3 linked regions of the Homo sapiens genome follow. The protein of the gene in region 1 purifies or fractionates together with the protein of each later gene. This does not show direct contact. Each region holds a gene or a part of one and is shown in the gene's direction. Other genes may lie near its edges.

Region 1 (7,095 bases):
AGCCACCACACTCAACGAATTTTAAAATTTTTTGTAGAGATGGGGTCTCCCTGTTGCCCAGGGTGGTACAAATTATTTTTGGCCAGGCATGGTGGCTCACACCTGTAATCCCAGCACTTGGGGAGGCTGAGGTGGGTGGGTTGCTTGAGCTCAGGAGTTCAAGACCAGCCTGAGCAACATGGTGAAATCGTCTCTACCAAAAATACAAAAAATTAGCTGGGCATAGTGGCCTTTGCCTGCAGTCCCAGCTACTTAGTAGGCTGAGATGGGAGGATCACTTGAACCTGGGAGGCGGAAGTGAGCCGAGATCACCCCACTGCACTCCAGGCTGGGTGACAGAGTGAGACCCCATCTTAGAAAGAAAATTATTATTATTATTTTTTGAGACGGAGTTTTCACTTTTGTTGCCCAGGCTGGAGGGCAATGGTGCAATCTTGGCTCAATGCAACCTCCGCCTCCCAGGTTCAAGCAATTCTCCTGCCTCAGCCTCCCAAGTAGCTGGAATTACAGACATATGCCACCACACTCAGCTATTTTTTTTTTTTAATTTAGTAGAAACAGGGTTTCATCATGTTGGTCAGACTGTTTTCAAACTCCTGACCTCAGGTGATCCACCTGCCTTGGCCTCCCAAAATGCTGGGATTACAGGTGTGATCCACTGCACCTGGCCGAAAACGATTTTTTAGGGTAATCAAATAATTGATCAAGAAACATTCTCCTTTACAGAAGATTACAGACTGAGATTACAGGCATGCCACCACGCCTGGCTAATTTTGTATTTTTAGTAGAGACGGGATTTCTCCATGTTGGTCAGGTTGGTGTTGAACTCCCGACCTCAGGTGATGCGCCCTCCTCGGCTTCCCAAAGTGCTGGGATTACAGGCGTGAGTCACCACACCCGGCCAGGAACATGTTAAATGACAACATGACTCAAGGTAATGTGTAGACCTTGTTTTGATCCTTATTCAAGCAAATCAACTGTAAGAGACAGGGGTATTTGAACTGGGTAATTCATACTATTAGAAATAAATATATCTATTTTGAGATGGAGTCTCACTCTGTCACCCAGGCTGGAGTGCACTGGCTCAATCTCAGCTCACTGCAACCTCCATTTCCTGGGTTCAAGTGATTTTCCTGCCTCAGCTTTCCAAGTAGGGAGAGACAGCTTTAGTAAATATCTTTGTACCTATATAATTATTAATGTCTGAAAGTAGTTTTGTAGAGTATTCTAAGAAATGGATTTGCACAGTAAGTAGAGCAGGCACTTACAAATATATATACAGTACATATAAATGCTTCTTTTCTTTTTTCTTTTTTTTGGTTGGTTGGTTGGTTTTTTTAGAGACAGGCTCTCACTCTGTCACCCAGGCTAGAGAGTAGTGGTGTGAACATGACTCACAGCAGCCTTGACTTTCCAGGCTTAAGATCTTCCCACCTACCTCAGCCTCCTGAGTAGGTGGAACTACAGGCATGTGCTACCACACCCGGCTAATTTTTTCTGTTTGTTTGTAGAAACAGGGTCTCACTATGTTGCCCAGGCTGGTCTTCAACTCCAACCCCTCCTGCTTCAGCCTCCCAAAGTGCTGGGATTACAGGCATGAGCCATTGCACCTGGCATTCACTGTTTACGTAAGCAGGGTCGTATTATATATATATTGTTCTCCAACTTTGCTTTTTTACTTCATGTGGCATAGCTATCTTTCCAGGATATAATATATAGGGGACCACTGTATTCTTTTTAGAAGTTGCACAGTATTCCACAGGATAAACTGATATACCATTTTTTAAATACAAGTTTTATTTTAATCTTCATTTTTTAACACATTTTATCATGGAAATTTTCAAACAAGAACAAAAATAGAAGGAATCCTATGATGAACAACCATATACCCATCACCCAGTTTTAACAATTATCATCATGTAGTCAATCTTATTTCATATATACCTTCCCACTCTCCTTTCTCCTCCCCTTTTGCTGGATTGTTTTTTTTTAAAGTCTCAGATAAGGCCGGGCGCCATGGCTCACGCATGTAAGTCCAGCACTTTGAGAGGCTGAGGCGGGTGGATCACTTCAGGTCAGGAGTTCGAGTCCAGCCTGGCCAACATGGTGAAACCCCATCTCTACTAAAAATACAAAAATTAGCTAGGCGTGGTGGGGGGCGCCTGTAATCCCAGCTACTTGGGAGGCTGAGGCAGGACAATCACTTGAACCCAGGAGGCAAAGGTCACAGTGAGCCAAGATCATAACACTGCACTCCAGCCTGTATGACAGAGCGGGACTTCGGTTTCAAAAAAAAAAAAAATTAAAATAAAAAATAAAACAGTGGCCGGGTGTGGTGACTCACGCCTGTAATCCCAGCACTTTGGGAGGCCAACATGGCGAAACCCTGTTTCTACTAAATATACAACAATTAGCTGGACGCGGTGGCAGGCACCTGTAATCCCAGCTACTTGGGAGGCTGAGGCACGAGAATTGCTGGAACTCAAGAGGCAGAACTCGTGAGTCAGAGATCTTGCCACTGCACTGCAGCCTGGGCAAGAGAGCGAGACCCCGTTTAAAAAAAAAAAAAATGCTGGCTGGGTGCGGTGGCTCACGCCTGAAATCCCAGCACTTTGGAAGGCAGAGACAGGCGGATCACCCGAGGTCAGGAGTTTGAGCCCAGCCTGGAGAACACAGCGAAACCCCATCCCTCCTAAAATACAAAAATTAGTCGGGCGTGGTGGCATGCACCTGTAGTCCTCGCTACTCGGGAGCCCGGGAGGCGGAGGTTGCATCCAGCGGAGATCACGCCACTGCACTCCAGCCTGGACAACACAGCGAGACTCTGTCTCCACACACACACAAAAAAAGGCATAACAAATTTAAGTGACTCAAAGCTTTATGTGACACAGGAGCTCTCAGAAAGGAACAGTTAAATTATAACATGTCCATATTATGCGTTAGTATGTGTCCACAACTAACCCATAATATGGACATGTTATAATTTAACTGTTCATTCCTCTCTTGATAGACACTGAAATCGTCTCTATAATTTTCCTGTAAGAAATAATGCCTTGGGGTGGGGGTGTCTTCCTTTCTGAGGCTATCATTTGTATTCCTCACTTCTTAAATTTGTTTGATATGTTGAGGCTTAAAAAAAAAAGATTACGGGTCTTCAGAACGCCCCAATGCCCGCGGGGTGCTGGGGTGCCTCGGAGTTTGTCAAGGTGTAGCTTAAAACGTTAATTCCCATGCTCGCTCCCAAATATTCGAATTAAGGCTTCTGTAGTTCTTACAAGTCACCCGCTTTCTTTCAGGAGGAATGTTAAAGATTAAGAGCGGCAAGAAGTCAGAGTCGGCCCACCCTCCGAGCTCTCTTAGGGCGATGTCCTTGCTAATTTGGAGACTGATTCAGTCCCCTTTTGGCCCCCAAGTTACGTAAAGATAAGGACTTTGGAGATGTTTTCTCAGGAAGGACAGAGCTGAAAAACAAAGTTCCGTAAGTCTGGCCGGTAACTACATCTTTCCTTCCTAACAAAGAATAAGCCGCAATTCACTCTCTCTGGCACCTGAACTTTGGGGTAACGATTAACTGCGATCCGAAGCCTTCAGGCAAGTAAAAAATTCCTGAAGTGATTACGCCTGTTTGGAGGCTTGCAGGGCACTAGGGGATGGGGAAAGGTGAATCGAGGTGCTCTCTGGCTCATTCGCAGCCGGCTAACCCGCCATATCTTACACAGCTAAGGGCTGCCGACGCCATTTTGCAGGGTGGGCTGCGCAGACTCTTGGCGGGAGGCCGGCGCGCTTGAGCGGGAGAGGACGTGGAAGGGTTGGAGGTGGGGAGTGCGCGTTACGACTGGAAAGCACGCGTGCGCACAGGCGACAGCAGCGGAGGGGTGGGGCCAGTGTACGAGTGCGCGTGCTCGGTGGGAGCCCGCGGAGTACCTGGAAGGAGGTGGGGGCGAGGTAGAAAGGAGTGGGGTTGAAAAGCGCTTGCGCAGGACGGCTACGGTACGGGGGTGGGAGGGCTTCGGAGCACGCGCGCGGAGGCGGGACTTGGGAAGCGCTCGCGAGATCTTCAGGGTCTATATATAAGCGCGGGGAGCCTGCGTCCTTTCCCTGGTGTGATTCCGTCCTGCGCGGTTGTTCTCTGGAGCAGCGTTCTTTTATCTCCGTCCGCCTTCTCTCCTACCTAAGTGCGTGCCGCCACCCGATGGAAGATTCGATGGACATGGACATGAGCCCCCTGAGGCCCCAGAACTATCTTTTCGGTAACTGCTGGGGGGAGCTGGAGCGAGGCCGAGCGGGGCCTGGTGGCGGTGAGGGTGGGGGTGAGGGGCGGGAATCCGGCTGCAACCGGGTCTGGTGGAGACCGCCAGACCGACGGGAGGCCTGAGCGGGTGGGAAGAGCTGCCTGAGCCCTGGACCTGGAGGGATTGGAGCCGCGGGGGGAGCCGGTGGCGTGAAGGGGGAGGAGACGAGCGGCCTGAAGCGTCTGGGGCGTGAGCGGTCCGAGGCCCGGGGCCTGAGGTAAAGTGGAACCGGCCGCCTGGAAGTTCGGCCTTTGCCGGGGATACGTGGCGGAGCTCCAGGCGTGGTTTATTTTCTAACGGCGGTGGTTCATAGGCTTCTGATGCCAGGCCCCGGGTTGGTGGTCCTGGAGGCTGGGTTCACCGGGAAGCATGGGCCTGCTTGTTGGAGCGGGTAGATGCACAGCCTGGCGTTATTCTGGCCTCAGAGCCTGGAGCTGCCGGACGTAGACTTACCTCGCGTGCTTCGGCCAGTTACTGGGGGTGGGGAGGCGCGGCGCGGCGTGAGGAGGCCGCAACCGCTGGGAGCACGTGGTTGCCACGTGGTTGGGGGAGGGAGGGGGGTGTGGGCGCTACATCCGGGACTCACCGGCGTGTTGCCACTCGTGAGCCAGGGATGCTGTGGCTCTGTTGAAGTGGGAAATGTTAAGAGGCTGGTAGCACTAGGGTTCTGGAGGTCTTTGTTCAGTGCTTACAGCATGTACTGTGATGGCAGCTCTCATTTTTTTGAGCCCCTTTTCTGTCTCACTGCGGTAGGTGGAGCTAGCCCCACTTTGCAGATGAGGATACTGGTGCCCAGAGATAAACTCACTTAACGAAGGTTGTACTTAGTAAAGGCAATAAGAGACTAAATCTAAACCAAGACGCTTGACTCCGTAGCTGCTGCTTCGTGAATATTAATGAGGCTTCGTTTTAGGGGGACGTCCTCGCATGCCGCCATTTGTGCGGCATTGACCAAACTGCTTTTCTAAATACAAGAAACACGTAGAGTGTTCGGTTTGAGTCAGATCAAGACCTAAGACTATTCGCAGAATTTTGGGAGCACCACCCCCCTCGACTTGCGGTAGTCCTGCCCCAAAAAGGAGAGTCCCACTTGGGTTTTTGATCTCAGTAGGATTAATTGCAGAAGCCTAATCTTTGTACTATTCAGACTTTGAAGTAAATGCAAATCCTACCGTGAATTTTATCTTGTTCATTATCCGTGCTGAGATTTGTTAATTAAACGTCTGTTCACATTTAAGCATGTATATGTATTGGTAACGGTTAGATGATAGTTAAATGGAATCATTTAAAATTTTTATTCTGACAGTGTTTTGAAGAATTTTGCCCATTCATGGAGTGAGAGTAGACATATGTATTCAAAACATTAAGGCTTTAATTCCTAGTTATTTTGGATAGCTGAGAATTCTGGTAAATTTATATCAGTACTTTTTGATAACTATCGGAAAGAACCCTCCTTGTCTTAAACATAATTTCTGAATATAGTTTGAGGCGTATGTCACTTTCTGTTGCTTTAAAGAGTGGAGTGTTGATCCCTGTAGCAAACTTCGGTTCTTTTACTTTTGTCATTTTTCTTTTGTAATAGTAAGCTATTCATGTTTGTAACCGTTCTCATTTCGAAATTGCCATTTGGGAATTTAGGTAGGTAAATCAGCTGTTTTAAATAGTGGGAAACTTAACATTGGACATTACATTTGGTTTCAGATAATTGCTTCAGGTTGAGATTTACTAAACCATTGAGCTTGTTTATGCAGAATAACAGTACCTATCAGCGTAGTTAGAGATGAAATATGGTATGATGAGAGAATGGAATTATAGTCTTTTATGGGTGTCTGTAGAGGTTTCTGTTCAAGAAATCTAGGAATTGATCATTCTGCTTTGCCCTCTGGTAGCTAAAATAGTGAAAAACTAGTTCAAAAGTTAGACCTGACCTTTTTGGTTACCCACACTTAAGTTTCAGTGTTATTTTTCTCCTTGTTAGAGTTGCTTTTTTCTTCATTTACAGGTTGTGAACTAAAGGCCGACAAAGATTATCACTTTAAGGTGGATAATGATGAAAATGAGCACCAGTTATCTTTAAGAACGGTACTTAAACTTTCAAAATAAACTACTTAACCCTACTTGATTTCAGCCTTTTAGTTTCTATTCATGTGGCTTGAGACTTTTTTTCCTTTGCTGACTGCTTATAAAATACTATTTCTTACACCTGGGTATTGTGTGTACCTCACTGTCTGTACATCTTTGAAGAACTTGGCATCTATACCACTCATTTGGTAACCATGTAAATTCCAGTCACACTGTTCAACTTGCCTTATTTTCTTCAGTTGAATTACAAAGCCCTTGTAAAAGGCATCGATAATCTTTCATGTCTACCAGAGACTAGCCTTCTGCTCAACTTAGAAGTTGCTCAATAAATATGTTAGGTGGTCTATATTGTGTGTATGCATATTTATGCATTTCTTAAATTTTCTGAATATGAGAAACTGATTTGCCAAGATCACAAAACCTGAGGACAACATTGCACAAATTTGTTTTCCAGGGTAATAGTGAGAGGTTTATACTTGTTTTTTAAAAAAATCACAGTCATGTGCCTCATTGCAACTGCTGGGTCAACAGATGGATCGCATATACAATGGTGGTCCCATAAGATTATTATACCTTATTTTTAATATACCTTTCCTGTTTTTTTTTTTCTTTGGAGGCAGTCTCGCTCTGTCACCCAGGCTGGAGTGCAGTGGTGTAATCTCGGCTCACTGCAACCTCTGATTTCCGAGTTCAAGTAATTCCCTGCCTCACCCTCCCGAGT
Region 2 (7,816 bases), on another chromosome or scaffold:
ACATTTGTACCAAGCCAGCCTCTGTCCCATCTGCTGCTTTGTCAAAGGTCCCCAGCCCCCAAGTCCTGGTGCAGGAGGCACCTGCTGGGCAGGTTGGGGCCTGACTACGCCTGGCTGGGCCTGCTCCCCAGCCCCTTCTCTCCTGCCTGCCACACCCCACTGGGCCTCCCTCCCACCTGAGTGGACTCTGCCCCACCAATCTCCCCTCCAGAGGCTCCCTCCCTAGCTAGGCTCAGTTTCCCCAGATGCTTTCCCATCCCCATGTCTGCCCAAGATGCACCCGCTGCCAAGAAGCCCTTTCTCCTTGGCTGACTTGTGCTCCTCTTGCTAAATCAAACCTTTTGGGAAATATTCCCTGGGGTCTCTTGGGGTCCTTGGGCATCCCTCTGTCCCAGCCGTGGCTCAGGACACCCCCCCTCTGCAGGAACAAGGCTGGCGGGCTGCCCGGAACCTGGGCCCGTGTAGTGGCAGCCCTGCTGCTGCTGGCTGTTGGCTGCTCCCTGGCTGTGAGGCAGCTCCAGAATCAGGGCAGGTCGACAGGAAGCTTGGGCTCTGTGGCCCCTCCACCCGGCGGACACTCCCACGGCCCTGGCGTATACCACCACGGTGCCATCATCAGCCCTGCAGGTCAGTCAGTGCTGGGGGCGGCTTGGGGAGGGGAGGGTCAGGGGTCACCAGCCCAGCCTAGCCCCCCTCCTTGCTGCATGACAGTGCCTTCCTTGCTGCAGCCACATGCTCCCACCTAGGCCGAGAGCTGCTTGTTGCCGGGGGCAACGTCGTGGATGCTGGAGTTGGAGCTGCATTGTGCCTGGCAGTGGTGCATCCTCATGCCACGGGGCTAGGTCAGTGACCCCTGACCCCAGACTGCAACCCCAACCCACAGCCTGATCAGTGACCTGGAACTTAGGGAGTCAGTAGCACTGACCTCAAGACTGCTAAGTGAGCAGGACTTAGGGTTTGGGCAGCAGTCCAACCCCAGGCTATGACCCTTGAGCCCGGGTCTGTGGAACTTTGACCTCAGGCCTGGTCAGTAACTCCTGATCCCAGGCTCAGTCAAGGGATCTTGACTGAAACAAGTCAGTGACCCTTGACCTGCGGCTGCTGAGGGACCCCTCTGTCTCCTGCAGGTGCCATGTTTTGGGGCCTCTTCCACGATAGCTCCTCAGGCAATTCCACGGCCCTGACATCAGGCCCAGCACAGACCCTGGCCCCCGGCCTGGGGCTGCCCGCGGCTCTGCCCACCCTGCACCTGCTGCATGCACGCTTCGGCCGCCTGCCCTGGCCACGCCTGCTAGTGGGCCCCACCACGCTGGCTCAGGAGGGCTTCCTGGTGGACACACCCCTGGCAAGGGCTCTGGTGGCTCGGGGCACAGAAGGCCTCTGTCCACTACTTTGCCATGCTGATGGGACACCCCTGGGCGCTGGGGCCCGAGCCACCAACCCACAACTGGCAGCTGTGCTTCGCAGCGCAGCCCTCGCTCCCACCTCAGACCTTGCTGGGGATGCTCTACTGAGTCTACTGGCGGGAGACCTGGGGGTGGAGGTGCCCTCGGCTGTGCCCAGGCCCACTTTGGAACCAGCAGAGCAGCTACCTGTGCCCCAGGGCATCCTGTTCACCACCCCCAGTCCCTCAGCTGGCCCAGAACTGCTGGCACTGTTGGAGGCAGCCCTGCGCTCCGGGGCGCCCATCCCTGACCCCTGCCCACCGTTCCTGCAGACTGCTGTGAGCCCCGAGAGCAGTGCCCTGGCCGCCGTGGACAGCAGCGGCTCTGTGCTCCTTCTCACCTCCTCGCTCAACTGCTCCTTTGGCTCTGCACACCTGTCCCCAAGCACTGGGGTTCTGCTCAGCAACCTGGTGGCCAAGTCTACCACTAGTGCCTGGGCCTGCCCCCTCATCCTCCGTGGCAGCCTGGATGACACAGAGGCTGATGTGTTGGGGCTTGTGGCTTCAGGGACCCCTGATGTGGCCAGGGCCATGACTCACACCCTACTCAGGCATCTGGCAGCAAGGCCCCCTACCCAGGCCCAGCACCAGCATCAGGGTCAGCAAGAACCAACAGAGCATCCCAGCACTTGTGGCCAAGGGACCCTGCTCCAGGTGGCAGCCCACACAGAGCACGCCCATGTCTCCAGTGTCCCCCATGCCTGCTGCCCCTTCCAGGGGTTCTAACAGGATGGGGGTGGGTCTGGCAGAAGGCAGAGTTATCTGAAGCATGGGGGCAGGAGCAGAGCAGACACAGCAGCAATGGAGTGTGCACCCGCAGGGTGTGGTGCCTCACACCTGTAATCTCAGCACTTTGGGTGGTCAAGGCAGGAAGATACCTCGAGGCCAGGAGTTTGAAACTAGCCTAGACAACAAAGCAAGATCTCATCTGTACTAAAAATTTAAAAATTTGCCAGGGGCGGTGGCACATGCCTGTTGTCCCAGCTGCTTGGGAGGCTGAGGCAGGAAGCTCGCTTGAGCTCAGGAGTTCAAGGCTGCAGAGAGCTAGGATCACACCACTGCACTCCAGCCTGGACAACAGAGTGAGAACCTGTCTTTAAAATAATAATAATAATAATAAAAAAATAGCTGGGTGCGGTGGCTCATGCCTGTAATCCCAGCACTTTGGGAGGCCAAGGCAGGTGGATCACCTGAGGCTAGGAGTTCGAGACCAGCTTGGGCAACATGGCGAAACCCCGTCTCTACTAAAAATACAAAAAATTAGCTGGGCATGGTGGCGGGCACCTGTAATCCCAGCTACTTGGGAGGCTGAGGCAGGAGAATCACTTGAACCCGAGAGGTGGAGGTTGCAGTGAACCAAGATCGCACCATTGCAACCCCACCTGGGCAACAAGAGGGAAACCCTGTCTAAAAAAAAAAAAAAAAAAAAGGATTTATTATGTGCTCACTGCTGGCTCAGGCCCCAACCTCTGGCCTTTTAAGTTACCTAGACTTGAGTTCTGGCATCCAGAGCTAACAATCATTCTTCAGATCACCCACACCGGATGGAATCTCTAGCTATTTTATCAGCTAAGAAAATCAGGGTAATAACGAAAAAGCAGTAGGGCCTGGGGCTAGCACTGAGTTCAGATCCAGCTTTCAGGAGGACAGTGGAAAGAGTGCAGAGCCTCTGCCTAGGCCCTGGGCCCCACGAAGCAGGACAGGCAGAGCCCAGGGTACTGTTGGCATCTCTGTCCTTCCCTTCAGGACACCCCTTACCTATCTGCCTCAACCAGACTGGGTACAAAATAAAGATCAAGTCTCCCGGAAACCAAGCACCATTCCTGCTTCTTGGTTAATTTTCCAACAGCTTTTGAAGCAACTGGAGTCAGGGCTTCCCTGATGGGCAGCACAGGTGACCAACAACCAGAGAGGGGAGAGCCTGGGTTGGTATCTTTCAGCTTCCCCCTGCTCCGCTCACCTCCTGCCTCCTGGGGCACCAGATGTGCAAGGTGAATGTTTTCATTTCACTTTCTAGAACAGACAGCAAAGCAGGGAAGCGGCTGAGAGGGTGAGAAGGCGCCCCAGGGGCTTGGGTACAAAGGGGTTGGAGTTGAGCGTGTGGAAATTCAAGGCGAAGGTTAGCCCTGACCTCCCCCAAGGGTTAGGTCCTCTCTGGACCACAGCCCTCTATAAACAGCTTCTCAAACCAAGAAGCGAGGGTGACCAGTAGCAGTTCCCCTCCCCTGCCATTGTAAAAGGCTTCTCTGATTTAATAGACCGTTTGATCCCACCACCTTTACCTCCCACTCCCAAGAAAATTCTTCTCCGTAATGGCACCACAATGTACCCAGTTATTTCAGTCTCAAACCTGGCATCCCCCTCATTTCCTCTCCCCCGACATCTAACTCCATCACCCACCCCACCTGCTCCACATCAGCCCAAATCTGACCTGTTCTCATTTTCCCTGGGTCCAGTCCACCACTATCTCTAAATGGTCTTCCCGTGCTTCCACCTGCGCAGACCTACAGTCCATCCCCCACACAGCAGCCAGCATCATCTTGTTAAAATGTAAATCGGATCCAGGCTTGCCCCTGCATTAAACTCACCAGTGACTTCCCATCACCCTCAGAATGAAATCCCAGCCCGGGGCCCCATGCAGCCTTGCTTCTCGCCAGCCTCAGCCCCTCCAGCCCTGGGTCTCTGTAGTTGCAAGGCTTGGGATTTCGTCCCCTTAGATCCTTGCAGGAGTACGGGGGAGGGGGGCCCTTCTTGTCACTCAGCTCTCATCCCAAATGCCACTTCCTCACAGAGGCCTTCCCTGACCAACCCCTCAAATCATTATTGGAGACCCTATTGAATAGTAATTAGCCGTGTTTTTAACGGGTGATGTATTCACGTTCCAGCACTTAAAAGCCTCCTCCTGACCCTTGCATTCCTAATTCTCTTCATAATTATGATCTTTTTAAATGCATTTGGCTCCGTGTTCCTCCACGAGAGCAGAGGCTTTGTTCCAACCGCCTAGCACGGCACGCCAGCAGGAGCCCAGTAATTGTTGAATGGCTCAATGTTCGGAGCGCAGGGGCCGCTCTGGGACGAGTCGGATCGAAGTGCTACACCTAGGTTTGTTTCCGAGATGGGCCCTTAGAAATGCCCCCCTGGGGCTCCAAAGGGGCAGATGCCACAGCCGCCAGGGCGGAGCGGGTGTGAGCAGAAGGCTGGGAAAGATGGGACGCCGCTAGGCGAGGGACTTCCGCTCAGAGCTACGGCGGAAATGCCGCTCTTTTAACTCTGGGCCGGTCTCTCTTGGTTCCCCCGCCCCTCCGGGTTCTTCCGCCTCCGAGCCGACACAAACCGGTGCGCATGCGCCGTGCCCTGACCTGGAAGCGGCTGGGGCCGGAGCACACGTGTTTCGTGTTTCGGTGAGTGTGGCGGAGATGGAGAGCCGGGATCCCGCCCAGCCGATGTCGCCTGGAGAAGCGACGCAGAGTGGCGCCCGGCCTGCCGACCGCTATGGCCTATTGAAGCACAGTCGCGAGTTCTTGGACTTCTTCTGGGACATTGCGAAGCCTGAGCAGGAGACGCGACTTGCGGCCACGGAGAAGCTGCTGGAGTATCTGCGTGGCAGGCCGAAGGTGGAGTGGCGGGGTCTGGGGCAGAGGCTGCGCATATCCCGGCAAGGAAGCGGCGGCGGGCCCAGGGAGTTGAGACTGGGGGCACGTGGTCGCGAACCTGGATGCCAGGGTGCGCGGGGGCGTGCACCTTGTTGTCACCATTGAACACGAGGGTGTGCTTGGTTCCGCAGGGGTCCGAGATGAAATATGCCCTGAAGCGTCTAATCACGGGACTCGGGGTCGGGCGAGAAACAGCCCGGCCCTGCTACAGTTTGGCCCTGGCACAGGTGAGGTGGTGCTCCTGGCAGGGTCCCAGCCATCCAGGTCAAAATGGTGGGGTATGAGGAGGGCGGGTGTGGTGTCTCAGCTGTGGCGGAGGGGCAGCCCGAGAGAGAGGTCGGGAGTGGCAGAGCAGACTGGAGGCCAACCTGAGGGAGGCCTCTTCATGAAAGTGGAGAAGGTGTGAGCAAGGCCTGGCCAGGTTTTCTATTTGGTGCTTGGGTTGCCCGGCCTCTTAGGTACACTTTCTGGGAGCAGTGAGCGCTGGGTGGGCTCCCTTAGGCCTGCAGAGGCATTCAGCTGATTGGAGTAGACCACTCTCTGAGGCGCCTTGACAAGGGGCAGAGCAATAAAGACCCAGGCCTGCAGGATCAGCCTGAGGGGAGCTCAGACCACGTGCGGAGAGAAGACCCAGTGGCTGAGCATTTCAGACTAGTAATCTAGGGGCCATAGAAGGTACATAGAAGGTGGGACTAGGGACCTGAGGCTTCTTGGGAGAAGTTGAAGGGGGAAGGGAGGTTAAGGTTTGTGAAGACGTAGTTGGGCCACTCTCCTGAACCCTCTTCCTCCTGCCACACAACTCCTGGCAGCTGTTACAGTCTTTTGAAGACCTCCCCTTGTGCAGCATCCTGCAGCAGATACAAGAAAAATATGACCTGCATCAGGTGAAGAAGGTGAGAGTGGGGCCAGGGAGGTCAGCAGCCCCAGGGGTGGGAGGCTTGGGGAATGGGGAGTTCCAGGGCCCCTCATGCCTGTGCCTGGAATCCTTTTCTAGGCAATGCTGAGACCTGCTCTCTTTGCAAACCTGTTTGGAGTGCTCGCCCTCTTTCAGTCAGGTCGGCTGGTGAAGGTAAGAGCTTTGGAGGGACTGGGGGAATGTAGGCTGGCTTGGGATGGGTGGGGGACAGTCGTGTGCCCTGCTCATACCCTCTGTCCCTCTGTGGGGACCAGGACCAGGAGGCACTGATGAAGTCGGTGAAGCTGCTGCAGGCCCTGGCCCAGTACCAAAACCACTTGCAGGAGCAGCCCCGGAAGGCCCTGGTGGACATCCTCTCCGAGGTATGAGCTCCCCAGCTGTGCGGGCCCAGGCAACACTTTGTTACAGAGACATCAAGGGGGCTCGGATGAGAATCTGGAACAGCACTGTTCCATAGAAATACAAAGATGTATAATTTGAAGCGTTTCAGTGACTTTGTTGAAAAGGTAAAAAGAAACAGGTGTCATTTAGTAACATTTAGTGACATTTGACTTTATCTGGTATATCTAAAATATTATTTCAGTGTGCATTGGTATAAAAAAGTGTTGAGATATCTTACACTCTTTTTGTCAGGTGTCTCCAAAATCCAGTGTGTATGTTACACTTAGGCACACCCCTGTTCAGATTAGCCACCTTTCAGGCGCTCAGCAGCCCTGTGTGGCTGTGGCTACCGTATTGGGCAGTGCAGCTCTGGAACTGTGCCTGGCACGTGGCAAGTATATAAAACGTTTGCCATTGTTATCCTGGTCAAGGCTGGCCCCTTGTGGGCCTCCACTGCCCTACTTGGGAAGGTAGCACCCTAGGCCCTTTTGTCACCGAAGAGAAAGGCAGGGGTAGCAGGTCTCCAGGCCAGGGCTTACTGTGCAGTCTTGACCTCAGAGCCAGAAGGACCTGAATTCGAATCCCAGCTCTCCACCTAGGGCTCCTCGTGTATGAAATGAGCTAGTACTCTGAAATACCAAAAAAAGGAATAATTAAAAGGGTAGCTTTGACCGGGCATGGTGGCTCACGCCTGTAATCCCAGAACTTTGGGAGGCCGAGGTGGGCAGATCACTTGAGGTCAGGAGTTCAAGACCAGCCTGGCCAACATGGTGAAACCCCATCTCTACTAAAAATACAAAAATTAGCTGGGTGTGATGGCGCACACCTTTAATCCCACCTGAGGCAGGAGAATTGCTTCAACCTGGGAGGCGGAGGTTGCAGTGAGCCAAGATCACACCACTATACTCAGCCTGGGTGGCAAAGTGAGACTCTGTCTTAAAAAAAAAAAATAAGGGGTGGGGGGCAGGTACCTCCAGGGGCCAGTTAGCGTCAGTGGGATGCTTGTCAAAAACCCCGCTGCCTGGGAATTTGAGTTTTGTTAGCAACTGGCCTCTGATGACTCTGATACCTCACCAGGTGGCCCCGTGTCAGGAGCAGGTAGAACAGGATCCACCAGGCTCACCCCGCAGAGGAAGTCACGATTTCTTCTCCCTCCATCCTTAGGTCTCGAAGGCCACATTGCAGGAGATCCTGCCGGAGGTCCTCAAAGCCGACTTGAATATAATACTCAGCTCCCCTGAACAGCTAGAGCTCTTCCTCCTGGCCCAGCAGAAGGTGCCCTCCAAGCTCAAGAAGCTGGTGGGATCCGTGAACCTATTCTCAGATGAGAATGTCCCCAGGTGTGATGGAGGTGGGCGGATTTGCCCTCCCTGGGGCCAAGGGACTGCATCTGGCCAGGCCCAGATTTGTCGTTTGGCCTGG
Region 3 (7,022 bases), on another chromosome or scaffold:
AGTTTTCTACCCCTAGTACTTAAAGCAAACAGGGTGAAGATTTCATCAAAGAAAGATCTGGGACCATGGTCTTTCCCTAAATTTTCCATTCTAGGGTGGCTTTTATCTTTTTCGGAGTCTTTTTGATCCAAAAGCAAGCTTGCTAACCCTCAAAGTGAATATATTTCTCCTTCTAGCTTCTGGGTTGTGAATAATCACCCCGTCATCAAAATTTGGCATTCTCTAGTCTCTCTCTCTTACGTAGCTCTCCCATCCAGGCAGTCCATAAGACAAAACTTCCTCTGCATCTGGTCCCCTCTTCAGTTCTGGCTGCCATTTTCCTTTCTTAGACCTTGTCAACTTTTAGTTGTCTTACTATCATAACTGATGTTTCCTCCTTCAGCTTTTCCTAAGTTCTGGCATATTCTAAATATTAAAACCAGGTTAATCATCTGAAAACACAACTTTGATTTTTAGTCGTTCTCCATTGTGTCCTGAGTAAAGACCAAACTTCTTAGTTTGGCTTACGAGATCTGTGATCTGGCCTCTTCAGTCTTCTTAGTTCGGGCTTCTCTCTTGCGTTCAGATAGATTATATTCCAGCCAACCTGGACTCAACACACCTGCATGCTCACTATGTTTGTTCCTGCTTCTGAGTCTGCTTACCTGGTCCTGTATGTTTAGAATGCCCAGCCTCACCATGTCTGCCTGTTAAAGGCCTTCCTATCCTCTAAGTCCCATTTTAAGCCTTTCTGGCAGTGATAATCTGTGTTATAGTAATCTCATTTTAAGTTGTATTTTTCTGATTATTACTGAAGTTGCTTTTTTTTTTTTTTTTTTAAATTCTTGGCTATTTGGGCCTCCTCTTTGTACTTATAGCATTTAATATAGTCTGTGTCATGGTAAAGTTATTTGTGTATATATTTTATATTCCATGTGATCCCTGAAGTAGGAAACATGTTTTATGCTTATGTTACTGCTGCAGCTGCTATTACCACTTCTACTACTGCCTTACAACTGCTTAATATTTCACAGTTTTCAGAGAACTTTCATGTAAGTACTAGAATTGGCCTGTCTCTAAACATTCCCCTAAATGGAACACAGAAAGTAGTTTTGATTCCTGTTCTGTGGAGTACATGTAGGGCATGCTGGCAGATAAAGTGGTATTAGAAACTTCCCTATCTCTAGTTGCTAAAAATCTAGTAGTAAAAATAGGAAGACATGTAAAATATTTAATTAAATGCTAAAATAAAAACAGACCCTATTTAAAATTGCAATCTTCTCAGCACTCCCTCTCTGCCTTATTTGTCTTCATAGCACTTAACACCACCTGCCATTGATTGACTGCCTTTCTCTCCCAGCTATAATGTAAGCTCCACAAGGGCAATGTATTTTGTCCCTTTTGTTTACCACCATAATCCAGTTCTTAGAACAGTGTTCAGTAAGCACTCAATAGGATTTTTAATTTTTTTTAAAAAAAGTAAGAGCCATGCATGGTACAAAATGCTGTAGGAATTCTGTAGTCCTCAGGAATAACACACAAAGGGCAGCATGGGACTGCATCTAGACAGATACAAAAATTTGGATGGGCATTGATACTGGCAACAAGAGTATCTTGCCAGAGCTGCAAATATACTTCTAGAAATTGAACCAAGGTTATGGATTCTGTTTTAACAGCGGTTTTCAAGAATAATGGAGGGAACAATCCTTAAATTCTTTAGGGTCAGCTCCTATCTTTTTCAGTTTTCAAGTCTGGACACCATCCTTTGAGGGAGGTATTGACAAACCCAGATGGTAAAGCACTTGGAAAACATAGTAAGTGAACTGCGGTTCAAAAGAGAAAAAAAACCCAAGAGAGAGAAGGGAGAAAGAGAGAAGATGCAGAGGAACATAAGAACAAGCTTCATCTAATCAAAGAATATATTTGTTCAGTGATTAAAGCCAATCGTTTTCCTCATCTCTGTGGTACTTTATAGACTGTTGAAATTTAGTAGTTAATAATTTTCTATCTTGTTTTAATAGTTTCACTATTAAAAATCATGTTGTCGGCCAGGCGCGGTGGCTCATGCCTGTAATCCCAGCACTTTGGGAGGCCGAGGTGGGCGGATCACAAGGTCCAGATCGAGACCATCCTGGCAAACACGGTGAAACCCCGTCTCTACTAAAAATACAAAAAATTAGCCTGGCGTGGTGGCGGGTGCCTGTAGTCCCAGCTGCTTGGAAGGCTGAGGCAGGAGAATGGTGTGAACCCAGGAGGTGGAGCTTGCAGTGAGCCGAGATCACGCCACTGCACTGCAGCCTGGGCGACAGAGTGAGACTCCATCTGAAAAAAAAAAAAAAAATCTTGTCTTAGCAAAATTATAATCTTGAGAATAACCTATACTCGTTTTGGTCCCTTTTATGACATCAAGCTCATTGTGGCATATACTAATTTCTTAGGAGTCACCTGATTTTAAAAATGTGTTTGGCTGGATAAATTCCAAATTTGTAACTAGAAGCAATTGCTTGCGCTTTGGATTTCTCTACCCTGAAAAAAAATAAGGTATTCTGTGATATTTAGCATATTTCCATACTTTGAAAATCTAGAAGTCTTTGCTTTCCTGGTCATAATCAGTGACCCTGTCTGCATTACATACACATGAATTTGAACTGCTCTTCTTCTTTCAGGTTGAGCAATGTTTAAAGCGTTTGAAAAACATGAATTTGGAGGGCTCAATTCAAGACCTGTTTGAGTTGTTTTCTTCCAAGTAAGTAAGTGGTCCAGTTGCTTTGTGATGTGGTGGGCTGGGAACTCAATGTCTTGTGATCTCCCTTTGGATTTCTCTATGCTTGCTGTTGGAATATAACCAATTATACCTCAGCTGTATAAATTTTGTTTTAATGTGGGGTACCTGGTGTTTGTGGTAATCTTCTGACATTGATCTATGGGAGTGACTGGTGTGACATTGAAATCTGGGTCATGGTAGATTATATTAAAACATCAGTGGGCTGTTATTGTGCTTAACTACCTCAAGTTGAGCTTAAAGCAAGTCTTCACTTGAAAACTGCTATAGAAATGCTTTATATTTAAAAATGAAAGTAATGGGAGCTTGCACATAGCTGAAAATGTGAAGGGTCGCCCAGGGAGGACATGGAAGCTCTGTGCTTCTTCTGCCATACCTTGCCCTATGCATCTCTTTGTTTCAATCCTTTGTCATATCCTTTATAATAAACTGGTAAATGTAAAAAAAAAAAAAACAAAAAAAAAACCCTTTTTTTTTAAGTGAAAGTAATGTACTTTTTCTATTTTTTTCAAGTGAAAATCAGCCCTTAACTACCAAAGTATGTGTTGTCCCCAGTCAGCCAGTGGTGGAGTTGGTGTTGATGAAGGTTTTGGGAGCCTGCAAGTTGTTGCTCCGCTTGTTGGACTGCTGCTGCAAAACTTTTCTGTATCCTTGAATATCTTGAAATATACCTTCTTTTGATTTGGAATTGTTTGGATATTTTTAACAGTATTTTTGTTTGAAAGCTAACACTCCATAGGAGTTACAACCTACAGGAATTCTTAAACTTTTGCTTCTTGGCCTCCTTTTCTCAGGAATTGCCTGATGCAGCCATTGCCAGAGACTGCCTGTCACTGTTCAGCACGTATTATCCTAAGAGCATTGATAGCTAGAAATTCTTAATCTTAGAAACTAAACTTTAAGAACTAAATTTAATAATGGGAACTCTAGCAGAGTGTTTATAACCATATTTTAAAGTTTTAAATTCTTAAATAGAATGTGTTTTAAGGCTTTAATACCTTTAAGAAAATTCTCTTTACTTCCAATATATTTCTTCATTCATGATTGTAACTTACAAAACCCACATTACTTTGATTTTGTTTTCTACCTTAAATTGATTTTCCAGTTTGACTGTGAAACATCTAGGTTTGCAAGAGTTCATTATTTTAAACCTTGTGATGGTTGGGCTGGTGAGCAGGTTATGGTATGTACATACCTCTGACATCCTTCATTTCTTTCTCATCTCCTTTCAGCCTAGGTTTCTTATTAGTAGTTTTCAAACTTATTTTCTTATGGGGTTATGGAAGGTGCAGGTATTCTCTTTCTTGGTTTGATCAGAGTTTTTTGAGGGTAGATTGGGAAGCCGAGTGCTGATGGCTGTATCAAAGGAGTAGGCTTTGTATCTCAATCCACAAGATCAGCCCAATCACTGAACAACTAAAAAAATCGGGAGTGACTGGTGTCACACTGAAATCTGGGTCATGGTAGGTTGTAGTGAAACATCAGTGGGCTTTTACTGAACATTAAAAAAATTAATGCCTGTGACTGGGAATTGCAGTAATAAAAAATTGTTGGTAGTAGTCATATTGCAACAGGCCGTTTAAAATGATGCTAATCCTGGGCTGGCTGTATCACTTGATTCTTTCTGTCACTCGGTTTCTAATTTTTAATGGCAATGATAAATGCAATTTTTGACCTTCTTATGTGCTAGACTATTTTCTTCCATCTCAAACACCACTGCTTTTTTGAGCATATTTAGTTGATGTATGCTGGTAATACTTGGAAACTAAAGAGACATCTCTTTCATGTCTCTCAGTACATATTGTGAAACTGATCTGATGGATAATTAGAATTTGCCCGTATCTGTAAGAAGGCCTGTTTTGGGCCATTTCAAACAATTAAGATTATTAGTTCTAATATGAATGTAAGAAAACATTGGATGGAGAAAAGAAAAAAAGTTTCTGTGTTTAGAGATTGAAAACCTTGCTTTGATATCTTAACCTGGATATCTCAAATAGTATTTCCTATTGTTTTATTTTTTATTCTACTTATTCTTAATCAGAGGTAACAATGTTTGATTACTAATCATATTATTTTAAAATGCTAAACCTTTGATACTCTCTTCTGTAATGAAAATAGCTTTAATTTTTGCTGATTATAATACATGCCTGTTTTAAGAAATTTAAAAAGAGAAATGTGAAGAACCTGAAATTTGCCTAAAATCTCACCATCTACCACACTTAAAACTTTGATATGCATCCTTTTGTACATTTCTCCATGTAGTACTTTTTGAATATATATATATCTTTCCTGGTAGACTGTCTTACAGTTTTTTGAGTAACATTTTATACTTGGATTTTTCTGTTGGGTTGGACTAATCTGGCTGTTCGCAAGTGTGCACTATAGTGTTTTTTATCTGTACTGGAGGACCTTGATAGCCATTTATTTTCAGCTTTCAATCTTGCAGTTTATTATGTAATCTGCAAATTGTAATTACTGGCTAATTAATGAGCTCCTATTTCTTTCTCTAGGGTTCTCTATAAAGGTGTCTTAAAAAGGTTGATTTTGTTATATGAGCCTTTGTTTGGATTGCTTCAAGAGGTCGCTAGGATTCAACCAATGCCTTACTTCAAAGATTTTACCTTTCCTTCTGATATCACTGAATTTTTAGGACAGCCATATTTTGAAGCCTTTAAGAAAAAAATGCCTATAGCTTTTGCAGCTAAAGGAATAAATAAATTGCTAAATAAACTGTTTTTAATAAATGAGCAGTCACCAAGAGCCAGTGAAGAAACCTTGCTTGGAATTTCAAAAAAAGCTAAACAAATGAAGATCAATGTACAGAATAATGTGGATCTTGGACAGCCAGTAAAGAATAAGAGAGTCTTCAAAGGTAATTTGCTTTGATACAGCACATACTCTAGTAAAACAAAAAACAAATAAAAAGAAACCTTTTGAAAGTAATAGTCATGCATTGCATAGAAAGAAATTCAACATCTCACATCTTAATTTTGACTCATATTGATTAGAGAGGTATGGTAATACCTGTGCTTTCTAAGCTTGAGTACTTTAAGTTGTTTATTTGTTTCTGTAGTTGCTTCCTAGTTATTTGCTTGCTTTATTCCTTTATTTTGTGGTAATTTGGCAAGAAATGTCATGCACTTAAGAATTTGTTGTAGATTTGAAAATAGTATGCCTAAGGTTTTGTATCTGCAATTTTTCCACCTCCACAGAAGAGTCATCAGAATTTGATGTGAGGGCTTTCTGCAACCAGCTGAAACACAAAGCTACTCAGGTTTGTCTGGCTTCATTAAATTTAGCTTATGATTTCTGCTAATTTGTAGAGGATGCTTCTTACCAAGGGCAGAGATTGAATCTTTTCATTTTATCCCCAGCTCTAAGCTTAGTGCCTTCTTAGTTGTCAGTGTGTGCTTCTGAATGAATAGAGGCAAGGGATTTTTAATACATCTAGTTAATTCAGTTAATAGAGTACCTTCAGAAATATTTTAGTAGGAGTTTCTCTAGAATTTTAAAGTAACCGTAAGATCTGTTGTTAAGTATGGATTGTACTGCAGCTTAAGAGTATAGGCTTTGCAGTCAGACAGTTGGTTTGAATCCTGGCTTTGGTACTAGCTGTGTGACCTTCTGTGAGTTTCCTGATCTCTCCGTACCTCTATTTTGTAATAGTAATATGTGCCTCATAGGGTTGTGCTAGTTTTAATGCATGTAAAGCGTTCGGTAGTCTGGAGTATGGTAAGCATTTAATTGGAGTTAGATGTTATTAGCTACGGTCATTTTGGTCATCATCCTCATCATTTTGTCATGAAGCTATTCCTTTACTCCTGTTGAGGTTCAAGTTTTAACATGATTGATTAATGTCTGTAAATTCTGTTTGTTCTGGACCTAACAGCATATAAGTACATCGGCATTACTGTTTTACTCAGTAACTTGACTTTTTTTTTTTTTTAACCCTGTCTTTGCAAAATGTCTACTTCTGGTATTTTTCATGGGTTAGTTTACTTCTTTTATTTAAGAATTCTTAAACATATTTTCTTGAACTTAAGGACTCCAGCTTCCATTGATGTTCTGTCCAATTTATGAATTCAGAGTGAGGAGTAATACTTTCTGTGCCAGGCATTGTTCTAAGTGCTTTTATATGCATGAAGTCATGTAATTATATCACAAAAGCTCTGTGAGGTGGGCATGCTTATTACTGTTTTCATATTTCAGATGAGGAAACTGAGGCATAGAAAGGCCAAGAAACTGCCAGGCCACATAGTGA

The links. The genes of interacting proteins can lie anywhere in the genome.
Region 2: the proteins of NPM1 (region 1) and MYBBP1A purify together in Homo sapiens (affinity purification with mass spectrometry; 5 studies listed by BioGRID and IntAct, with this or other methods). This does not show direct contact.
Region 3: the proteins of NPM1 (region 1) and RMP64 purify together in Homo sapiens (affinity purification with mass spectrometry; 6 studies listed by BioGRID and IntAct, with this or other methods). This does not show direct contact.

The regions. Positions count from the first base shown.
Region 1 is NC_000005.10:171,383,757-171,390,851, forward strand, and holds the start of NPM1 (nucleophosmin), read left to right. Parts: upstream 1-4,092; 5' UTR 4,093-4,192; coding exon 4,193-4,250; intron 4,251-6,294; coding exon 6,295-6,374; intron 6,375-7,095. UniProt on the Homo sapiens protein: Involved in diverse cellular processes such as ribosome biogenesis, centrosome duplication, protein chaperoning, histone assembly, cell proliferation, and regulation of tumor suppressors p53/TP53 and ARF.
Region 2 is NC_000017.11:4,552,369-4,560,184, reverse strand, and holds the start of MYBBP1A (myb-binding protein 1A), read left to right. Parts: upstream 1-4,800; 5' UTR 4,801-4,860; coding exon 4,861-5,058; intron 5,059-5,228; coding exon 5,229-5,324; intron 5,325-5,906; coding exon 5,907-5,990; intron 5,991-6,091; coding exon 6,092-6,166; intron 6,167-6,267; coding exon 6,268-6,375; intron 6,376-7,558; coding exon 7,559-7,734; exon of another isoform or gene 7,735-7,745; intron 7,746-7,816. Other genes in the region: GGT6 (glutathione hydrolase 6), read left to right, coding at 425-627, 729-842, 1,128-2,170. UniProt on the Homo sapiens protein: May activate or repress transcription via interactions with sequence specific DNA-binding proteins. Repression may be mediated at least in part by histone deacetylase activity (HDAC activity).
Region 3 is NC_000003.12:113,009,656-113,016,677, reverse strand, and holds part of RMP64 (nucleolus and neural progenitor protein), read left to right. Parts: intron 1-2,645; coding exon 2,646-2,725; exon of another isoform or gene 2,726-2,729; intron 2,730-3,274; coding exon 3,275-3,406; intron 3,407-3,866; coding exon 3,867-3,944; intron 3,945-5,271; coding exon 5,272-5,633; intron 5,634-5,973; coding exon 5,974-6,035; intron 6,036-7,022. UniProt on the Homo sapiens protein: May play a role in cortex development as part of the Notch signaling pathway. Downstream of Notch may repress the expression of proneural genes and inhibit neuronal differentiation thereby maintaining neural progenitors.